Linked DNA regions of Homo sapiens: region 2 is linked to region 1. A link means that fine-mapping ties the variant in region 1 to the plasma level of a protein whose gene starts in the linked region. Region 1 holds a variant in brackets. A gene starts in the other region. All regions are shown on one strand. Distances are between the middles of the regions. Region 1 has its middle 16 kb from the start of SIAH1. Region 2 holds the start of ITGAM (integrin subunit alpha M).

What was found. PIP is the posterior inclusion probability: the model's chance that the variant is causal. Protein levels are from antibody-based Olink assays in UK Biobank. Linkage for the fine-mapping came from a reference panel and not from the study's own genotypes, which makes the PIPs less certain.
Region 2: ITGAM starts here. The variant in region 1 is fine-mapped to the plasma level of the ITGAM protein (UK Biobank, PIP above 0.99).

The regions. Positions count from the first base shown.
Region 1 is chr16:48,398,356-48,403,729 of GRCh38, reverse strand. No RefSeq gene overlaps it. Among named protein-coding and RNA genes, the nearest start is that of SIAH1, 16 kb to the right of the region's middle. RefSeq lists an enhancer at 3,911-4,656. The variant C/T (reference allele first, on the strand shown) is at 2,495.
Region 2 is chr16:31,257,634-31,263,007 of GRCh38, reverse strand. ITGAM (integrin subunit alpha M) reads right to left here and starts at 3,033. Exons shown (of 30, transcript NM_000632.4): 1 at 2,916-3,033; 2 at 1,211-1,316. The coding sequence starts at 2,943. RefSeq lists an enhancer at 3,177-3,276.

The DNA of each region.
Region 1 (5,374 bases):
ATCCCCAACACAATGATCCCTGATGCTCTATTTCTATTTTCATCCTATAACTTTCCTTCAAGGAGTCTATAAAGCATCAACTCAAAGTGACAAGAAGTGGACACATATTCTAAGGGAGCTCCCCAGGACAAAAGGAAGATGGAGGAAATGGTCTCTGAAGGTATGTGTGAAGGTGCTAGACAGGAAGTTGTCCCTGCCCAGCCCTGGTCACAAAAAAAAAAAAACCTCTTTCATCCCAGCCACATCACAAACAAAACAGAGACATTTTGCACATCACCAATCAGTCTGGAATGACCTTTATGACTTTGGAATTGTCCTATCTCCTTCTATTCTCCACCATACCTACTTTATACCTTTCTTCAGTAAAAACTTCTCAATAACCTTTGCCATCTGCTGTGGGGAAACCAAACACGGAGAAGTCACAGTTGCTGTGCAATTTAGTTATGGAGACAAGACAGGGAGACCTTTAACAAAGAATAAAAATGAGGGGATGCTGGCCCAACTGTATCCCTTGTGCATATCTAAAAATAAAGGGGATCAGTGTGTAGATGAGTGGATTAAAACAAAAACAAAATAAGAAAATAAAAGTAAAGGGGAAATTAGCATAAGTTCTCTTGCAAAAAAAAAAAAACCAACCTGAGATTTTCTGAAAGTGTACTCTTTAGATTGGCTCTTGAAAGAAATGAGGGCTGGCCATGGTGACTCACGCCTGTAATCCCAACACTTTGGGAAGCCGAGATAGGCAGATCACTTGAAGTCAGGAGTTCGAGACTAGCCTGGCCAACACAACGAAACCCTGTCTCTACCAAAAATACAAAAAAAGTCGCTGAGCTTGGTGGCAGTAGTTCCAGCTACTCAGAAGCCTGAGGCAGGAGAATCACTTGAACCTGGGAGGCAGAGATTGCAGTGATCCGAGATTGCGCCACTGCACTTCAGCCTGGGTGACAGAGTGAGACTCCATCTCAAAAATAAATAAATAAAAAAGAAAGTGGCTGGGCACGGTGGCTCATGCCTGTAATACAAGCACTTTGGGAGGCCAAGGGGGGGTGGATCACCTGAGGTCAGGAGTTCGAGACCAGCCTGACCAACAGGAAAAAACCATGTCTCTAATAAAAACACAAAATTAGCCAGGTTTGGTGGCATGCGCCTGTAATCCCAGGTACTCGGGAGGCTGAGGCAGTGAGAATCACTTGAACCCGGAGCCAGAGGTTGCAGTGAGCCAAGATCGCGCCATTGCACTCCAGCCTGGGCAACAAGAGTGAAACTCTGTCTTAAAAAAAAAAAAGAAGAAAGCAATGAGGAGGTAGACTGGGGGAAAGACGGCCTTCCTAGTCGGGAAAGCAGCAGGGTATAAAGGAAGGAATAATGAACGGAGAGTTAGGAGAGCTTGGGGTGCATCCAAGCTATCTTGAACTGGGGTTTGCATCTAGGGCATGGGGTGGCCCAGGGTCTGTGAGGTCATTTTCTGATACTTATAGTCGATGGTTAACTTATGATTCTGTGATGGGTTTGGAATACAGATCTGCCAGGCTTGTGCTCCTGGTGTGTGTTATGTCCTTCCACACCCTAGTAGGATGGTGTCAATGGGATCAAAACTTTGCATGTGCCCCTTCCTCTGCCTGGAACTCATCTCCTCTGAATCAAACTCCATTCAGTAGAACCTTCTGGGATGATGGAAATGTTCTATTAACCTGCATTGTCCAGTACAGTAACCACTAGTTAAATGTGGGGATTGAACCTTTGAAATGTGGCTAGTGTGACTGAGGAATGGAATGAATTTTTAATTGTATTTATTTATTCATTTTTGCTTTTGAGTTTTTTTGTTGTTGTTCTTGTTGTTTTGAGACAGGGTCTTGTTATGTTGCCCAGGCTAGTCTAGAACTCCTGGGCTCAAGCGATCTTCCTGCCTCAACCTCCCAAAGTTCTGGGATTATGGGCACAAGCCACTGCAACCCACTGTATTTAAGTCTCATTTATTTATTTATTTTTGTTGCCCAGGCTGGAGTGCAATGGCGAGATCTCGGCTCACCGCAACCTCTGCCTCCCAGGTTCAAGCGATTCTCCTGCCTGGGATTACAGGCATGCGCCACCACGCCCGGCTAATTTTGTATTTTTAGTAGAGACGGTGTTTCTCCATGTTGATCAGGCTGTTCTCAAACTCCCGACCTCAGGTGATCCGCCTGCCTCGGCCTCCCAAAGTGCTGGGATTACAGGCATGAGCCACCTTGCCAGGCCAAGTCTAATTTATTTAAATAGTCACGGGGGCTAGTGGCACCTATACTGGGCGGCATGGCTCATGGTTTGCTCCTTTGCAATGTTCAGCTATCGATCATCTTCTCAGAGAGGCTGTTCCTCAGGATTGCCACCTGTGGAAGGCAGAATGCCCCCCCAACCCCCGCCAAAAACATACACATCTAAATCCCTGGAACCTGTTACCTTACCTGCCAAAGGGGTATTAAGGTTGCAGATGACATCAAGTTGCTGCTGAGCTGAC[C/T]CTGAAATGGGAAAGTTCTCCTGAATTTTCTGGATGAGCCCATCTAATCTTTTGAGTCCTTAAAAGGGAAAAAGAAGTAGGTAGAGAAGTAGATGAGCTATAGAGATGAGAGAGATGAAAAAGGAGAAAGATTAGAAGTGTGAGGCAGGCCAGGCGCAGTAACTCACGCCTGTAATCCCAACACTTTGGGAGGCCTAGGCGGGCAGGTCACCTGAGGTCAGGAGTTCGAGACCAGCTTGACCAACATGGTAAAACCCCGTCTCTACTAAAAATACAAAAATTAAAGAAGTAGACATAGGAGACTCCATTTTGTTCTGTACTAAGAAAAATTCTTCTGCCTTGGGATGCTGTTGATCTATGACCTTACCTCCAACCCGGTGCTCTCTGAAACATGTGCTGTGTCCACTCACGGTTAAATGGATCAAGGGCAGTGCAAGATGTGCTTTGTTAAACAGATGCTTGAAGGCAGCATGCTCGTTAAGAGTCATCACCACTCCCTAATCTCAAGTACCCAGGGACACAAACACTGGGGAAGGCCCCAGGGTCCTCTGCCTAGGAAAACCAGAGACCTTTGTTCACTTGTTTATCTGCTGACCTTCCCTCCACTATTGTCCTATGACCCTGCCAAATCCCCCTCTGCGAGAAACACCCAATAATGATCAATAAAAAGTAAAAAAAAATAAAAATAAAAATAAAAATAAAAATACAAATACAAAAATTAGCCAGGCATGATGGTGGGCGCCTGTAGTCCCAGCTACTCAGGAGGCTGAGACGAGAGAATCACTTGATCGCTTGAACCCGGGAGGCGGAGGTTGCACTGAGCAGAGATTGCGCCACTGTACTCTAGCCTGGGCGACAGAGTGGGACTCTGTCTGAAAAAAAAACCAAGAAGTGTGAGGGGGAATCACCCTCCGTGGTTGGCTTTGAAAATGGAGACAGGCAGGCTCTGTCAACCAAGTGCAGTGGCCTCTAGGAGCTCAGAACAGGCCCTCCATGGACAGCCAGCAGGCAAACTGGGCCTCAGTCCTACAACTGCAAAAAACTGAATTCTGCCAAAAACTTGAATGAGCACAGAAACAGATTCTCCCCGAGAACCTCCAGAAAGGAGCATGGTCTGCTAACACCTTGATCTTAGTCCCATGAGACCCACACCAGACTTCTGACCTATACAGCTGTAAGACAATACATTTGTGTTGTTTAAAGCCACTAAATCTGTGGTCATTTGGGCCGGGTGTGGAGGCTCACGTCTGTAATCCCAGCACTTTGGGAGGCTGAGGTGGGAGAATAGCTTGAGGCCAGGAGTTCAAGACCAGCCTGGGCAATACAGCAGGACCCCAACTCTACAAACAAATAAAAAAATTAGGGCCAGGTGTGGTAGCTCATGCCTGTAATCCCAGCACTTTGGGAGGTCAAGGTGGGCAGATCACCTGAGATCAGGAGTTCGAGACTAGCCTGACCAACATGGAGAAACCCCATCTCTACTAAAAATAAAAAATTAGCTGGGCGTGGTGGCGCATGCCTGTAATCCCAGCTACTCAGGAGGCTGAGGCAGGAGAATTGTTTAAACCCGGGAGGCAGAGGTTGCAGTGAGCCAAGATCATGCCATTGAACTCCAGCCTAGGCAACAAGAGTGAAACTCCGTCTCAAAAAAAAAAAAAGAAAAGAAAAAAATTAGCCAGGTGTGGTGGCATGCGCCTATAATCCCAGCTACTTGGGAGGCTGAGGCAGGAGAATCACTTGAACCCAGGAGGCGGAGGTTGCAGTGAGCTGAGATCACGCCATTGAACTGCAGCCTGGGCAACAAGAGTGAAACTCCATCTCAAAACAAAAATACAAAACTTAGCTGGGTGTGGTGGCTCACGTTTATAGTCCCAAACTCTTGGGAGGCTGAGGTGGGAGGATCATTTGAGCCTAGGAGGTCGAGGCTGCAGTGAGCTGAGATCACGCCACTGCACTCCAGCCTGGGTGGCAGAGTGAGACCCCATCTCTAAATAAATAAAAATTTGTGGTCATTTGTTTCGGCAGCAATGGGAAACTAATACTCCACCCTAGACTGGCTCTAGGCCCACCCTGGTGGGGCCCCTAAGGAGTCAGGAGTCTAAGGACCCAAGGAGAGGTGCCCCTATGGAGGCCTCTTCTAACATCAGTGAGCTGCTCAATGGCCCTGGTCCTGCACTCATGGCCCACATGTGCCTCCTCTCTCGTTCTGTCCTCCAGAGGGTGAACAGGCCTCAGATGAGCACCCCCAGGCCTGAGGGGAAACACATCAATGGGTGTCTGTGCGGGAACAGGTGAGGCCTGAGCTGGGACACTGGGCTTCAGTGTCCACATGGACACATGCAAGTCCCTTTGATGTATGAGACATGGCAAGGCAGAGGAGGGCTGGGAAGAAAAGTAGCTCAGGAGCAGGGCTCAGGGTCGGCCTCTGCTCTCTGGGCTGCTGGGTGGAACTCTGGGAAGGCTGTGGATTTTATTTTTTACAAATTTAATTTATAATTTATTTTAAAAATAGAGATGGGGTCTCACTATGTTGCCTGGGTTGGTCTAGAACTCCTGGGCTCACGTGATCCTCCTGCCTTGGTCTCCCAAAGGTATGGGATCACAGGTGTGAGCCACCTCACCTGGCCAGTCTGTGGATTTTAAATTCAAGTCAGATCTCCCAGGTGTTTGTGAGGGTATATGAAGGAGAATAAAATATATATTTCTCTCTTTTTTTAGAGACAGGATCTTCCTCTGTTGTCCAGGTTGGAGTGCAGTGGCATGATCTCAGCTCATGGCAGCCTTGACCTCTCAGGCTCAAGTGATCCTCCCACCTCAGCCTCCCAATTATCTGGGACTACAGGCGTGAGCCATCACACCGAGCTAATTTTCATATTTTTT
Region 2 (5,374 bases), 17 Mb after region 1:
ATCATGCCACTGCACTCCAGCCTGGGCGACAGAGGGAGTCTCTAAAAAAATAAAATAAAATAAATTATAGCATCTCCCAATTATGGCATGCAATGCAAGCATAACATGGGATTAATGGACTCAAATCACTGGGCTGTATTATGGGAGATAAAGCAAAGAGCAGAGACCAGCCCCCTTCTTCTGGAAAGGTACTATCACCTCCACAATTACTGTTTCTGTAAAGGTAAATGTTTTAGGCTTCAGGGTCCATACAATCTCTATCACAGCTCCTGAATTCTGCCATTACAGCTCAAAAGTGGCCATAGCCAGGCACAGTGGTTTACACCTATCATCCCAGCAAGTTGGGAGGCCCAAGCAAGAGGATGACTTGAGGCCAGGAGTTTGAGACCAGATTGGGCAACAGAGTGAGACCTCGTCTATACAAAAAAAATCAAAAAATTAGCCAGGTGTGGTGGCACATGCCTGTAGTCCCAGCTACTCAGGAGGCTAAGGTGGGAGGATTGCTTGAGCCCAGGAGTTTGAGTCTACAGTGAGCTATGATTTCACCTGTGCACTCCAGGCTGAATGACAGAACAAGACCATGTCAGAAAGGAAAGAAAGAAATGAAGGAAGGAAGGAAGGAAGGAAGGAAGGAAGGAAGGAAGGAAGGAAGGAAGGAAGGAAGGAAGGATGGAAGGGAGGGAAGGGAGGGAAGGAGGGAAAGAGGGAAGCAGGGAATGAGAGAGGGAGGAAGGAAGGAAGGAAAGAAGGAAGGAAGGAAGGAAGGGAGGAAGGGAGGGAAGGGCAATAAACAGTAAGAGACAAGTGGACGGAGTTGTTTTCAATAAAATTCATTCACAAAAATAGGCGGCAGCCTGCAGGCAGGCCTTAATTTCAGTACAATGTATACTACACATGGTGTGTTGGCTGAGGGAGGGAACGTGTATGTGTTATGCACACACAGAGTCTCCCCGAAGGAACACCCAGGAAACCATTTGTGAGGTCCCTCCTGGGAAGGGAACTAGGGGAAGGGAGTAAGGAAGAGATTTTTACTCTTACACCCTTTTGCATCTTTTGAATTTAGAATACTGTAAATTCAAAAGATGAATTTGTTGTATATTTTGAATTGATTTATCTGTTGAAAAAGATCACTCAAATCGCTGATTTTTTTCAGGTATGTAAGTCTTGGAGAGAAAGCACTGAGAAAGGGGGCTCCATCTAAGGGTCTCACCTGGATCCCTGAAGCTGGACCACGCTCTGCCCGAAGCCCCTTGCGTTCTCTTGGAAGGTCATTGCGTTTTCAGTGTCCAAGTTGAACCCATGACATAAGGTCAAGGCTAAAGGGAGAATGGGGGAAGGATCAAGCAGAGGAAAGTAGCATGCCAGTTAGGGGCTGTAGTCCTAGCACTTTGGAGGGCTGAGGCAGGAGGATCACTTGAGCCCTGATTGTGCCACTGCACTCCAGCCTGAGCAACAGAGAGAGATCCTATCTCAAAATTAAATACAAAAAAAAAACAAAAACTAATAATAATTTAAAAGAAAGCAATGGCTGGGTGTGGTGGCTCAGGCCTGTTATCCCAATAATTTAAGAGGCTGACGTGGGAGGATCACCTGGGCTCAGGAGTTTAAGACCAGCCTAGGCAACACAGTGAGACCCCATCTCTACAAAAAATAAAAAATTAGCCGGGTGTAGTGGTACTCAGGAGGCTGAGGTGGGAGGATTGCTTGAACCCAGGAGGTCAAGGCTGCAGTGAACCATGATCATGCCACTGCACTACAGCCTGGGCAACAGAGAAAGACCCTGTATCAAAAAAAAAAAAAAAAAAAAAAGATAGCAGCATGTCTTCCTGCTCCATTCCCTTTCCCATCCATTCGGTCACCCTAACTAACCCAGCATCCAGATGTCTGCCTCCCAGGTCCAGCTCTGTTAGCCTGGGGCGGGGATTAGCACACTTATTCTGTAAACAGCCAGATAGTAAATTTTAGGTTTTGCAGACCAAGAGGCTGATAGAATATGTTGTACAAGTACTTATATAACAAGACAGAAAATACTTTTCCACAAATTTGTCATTAGGGAAATTTCAAACATAATGATTGAGTACAATTTGTTTGTAATACGGGTTTACAAATGAGACAAATAGAATTCTTTGGGGGTGGTGCTCCCTATCATCAAATCGATTATCAGTGTTCATCTTCAATCTCTAGCTGGCAGGTTGTGCAAAAACAGGTCGTGGGCCATATCGGGCCCCCAGGCCACTGTTTGCTGACTCCTGACCTAAGAACCACCGTCGTGGGGCACGTCCAGTCCTGCTCTGAATTCCAGCCTCCCTTCTGAGCACCTAAATGGCTTCTTCCCCCGGTGTCACAACGATGATTTGCCCAACAGTGAAGTTTCTATACATTCTTAATTAGATAATTTCCTTCCTATGCAGCTCTCAAGTATTTCCTTCCCTTTTGAGGAGAATTTCATTTTCCACAACATATAAGCATAAAAGGTAACAAACTCAAATCATTTTCATTCATCAGTCATTCAACAAACATTTGCACCCGGGACCTTGGAAAATAGAACCGGAGGCAAAGTGGAGATGGTGAGAGGGGATCCAGGAGGAAGCACTCAGGAAAGGGGTCTCACACCTGCTGCGCACCCTGAGCCATGTCACTTCTCCTCCCTGGGCCTCCGTCTCCTCATGTGTGAAGCAAGGGGACCGGCAAGCAGCCTTGCACAGTCCATGAATGTGGTCATTCATCCAGGCTTCCCTGGCCAGCCTGTCTGGGTCTAGCTGTTCTCCCTGCTTCTTCTTGAACCCTTTCTCCTTCCCCAAATCCCCTTTGCCTCTCCCCAGACTGACTCCTACATATTCTGGGCCCTCTATTTATGACAGACCCAAAAGTTACCCTCCTCCCCACCCAGAGTCCCCCACCCCACCCCCATGCACCTGTTAACAGAAGGACTCTGAGAGCCATGGCTGGAAGGAGCCAGAACCTGGAAGGAGGTGAACCAGGGGTTGCAGGCACCACTGAGGAACCACAAGGAAGCCACCAAAGCAAAGAAGGGCAGAAAAGGAGAAGTAGGAGGCAGAAGTCTATCAGAGATTCAAAGGAAGAGGGCGGAGGCTCAGTGAGCACATAGCCCTGCCTGGTCTTCCGCCCAGGACTGCCCACAGCCTGCCCACCCTTCCTCCCCAGCTTCCTGACCCAAACTTTCAAAGTCAATACCACTATCCAAAAGGTGCCATTTGTCACCCACTTGTTTCTTGGGTTGGCCCAAGCATATGAACAAGCTGAACAGACTTAGCCTGCCTCCTGGAATTCGTGTTCTAAACATTAATACGGGCCAGGCGCAGTGGCTCACGCCTGTAATGCCAGCACTTTGGGAGGCCAAGGCAGGAGGATTGCTTGAGCCTGGGAGTTTGAAACCAGCCTGGGCAACATAGAGAGACCCTGTCTCTACAAAAAAATATTTTTAATTAGCTGGGCATGGTGGTGCGCGCCTGTAGCCCCTGCTACTGGACAGGCTGAGGTGTGAGAATTACTTGAGCCCGAGGTCCAGGCTGCAGTGAGCTAGGATCACACCACTGCACTCCAGCCTGGGCAACATAGGGAGACCCCGACTCTACAAAAAAATACATTTAAAAAATTAGCCAGGCATGGTGGCACATGCCTGTAGTCCTAGCTACTCCAGAGGCTGAGGCAGGAGGATTGTTTGAGCTCAGGAGTCTGAGACTGCAATGAGCCTCAATAATGCCACTGCACTCCAGCCCAGGTGACAGAGTGAGACTCTGTCTCAAAAAAAAAATTAAATAAATAAATAAGCAAACATTAATACAGATCAAACAAGTGTAGGAGGTAAAACTCTGTGTCTTCCTGAAAACACACTTTGCAAAATGTCCCTCCTTCAGCCCATGGAAATGGAAGCGCCCTTCAGCCAGAGCTGTCCTCATTTGTAGCCATCAACAAAGACAACTCAAGTACAGGCATACCTGGTGCTTTTTAAATATTATTTTGTGCTTTTTTTAGAGACAGAGTCTAGCTCTGTTGCCCAGGCTGGAGTGCAGTGGTGTAATCACAGCTCACTGCAGCTTCAATCAACCTCCTGGGCTCAAGCGATCCTCCTACCTCAGCCTTCCGAGTAGCTGGTACTACAGGCACATGCTGCCATGGCCAGCTAATTTTTTTTAAATTTTTTGTAGAGACAAGATCTTGCTATGTTGTTCAGGCTATTCTCAACCTCCTGGACTCAAGTGATCCTCCTTCCTCAGCCTCCCAAACTGCTGAGATTACAGGTGTGAGCCACTGCATCCAGCCTATTTTTGTGTGTGTGTGTGTGTGTGTGTGTAAAGGCCTCAAGCTCTTCACCCAAGAATTTTCACTTCTAGTAATTTATCCTAAGAATAGTTAAGAAGTGTAGTCAAAAATATATGTACAAACTTGGCTGGGTGCGGTGGCTCATGCCTGTAATCCTAGCATTTTGGGAGGCTGAGGCGGGGTGGCTCACTTGAGGTCAGCAATTGAAACCAGCCTGCCCAACATGGTGAAACCTCATCTTTACTAAAAAGACAAAAAAATTAGCCAGGCGTGGTGGCAGGCACCTGTAATCCCACCTGGGAGGCTGAGGCAGCAGAATCACTTGAACCCTGGAGGCGGAGGTTGCAGTGAGCAGAGATTGTGCCACTGCACTCCAGCCTAGGCGACAGAGCAAGACTCTTATCTCTAAAAAAAAAAAAATATATATATATATATATATTTGCAAGCTTGTTCATTGCAGCATTATTGTTAATATGAAAAGCTAAAAAAACCTGAATATTCAACAGAGGAATGGTTCAATGATACTTCACTCTGTGATATATCCTTACCCTCCCCTGTGTCTGTCACTTTTAATTCTGTTTTCAAAGGCACAGGAAAATAGGTATCCTTCCACACATACATGGAACACAAACCTCACCTTTATGTGACCGCCAATGTGATTCTCAAGCCAATGATTTTTTTCACTCTTTCTCAACACATTTTCTTTTTTTTTTTTTTTTTTTTTTTGTGAAACGGAGTCTCCCTCTGTCGCCCAGGCTGGAGTGCAGTGGCGTGATCTCAGCTCACTGCAACCTCTGCCTCCCGAGTTCAAGTGATTCTCCTGCCTCAGCCTCCCGAGTAGCTGAGAATACAGGTGCTTGCCACCACGCCTGGCTAATTTTTTGTATTTTCAGTAGAGACAGGGTTTCACCATTCAACACATTTTCTTTTGCCTCTAGTTCTACTTTCCCGATAACTAGATGGAAAAAAATGCTTGCTGGCTGAAAAAAAAAAAAGCAATTAAAATTATGTACATTTGGTTAAAAATTATCTGTTTATAATTTTTATATATAGCCAGGTGTGGTGACTCCTGCTTGTAATCTCAGCACAT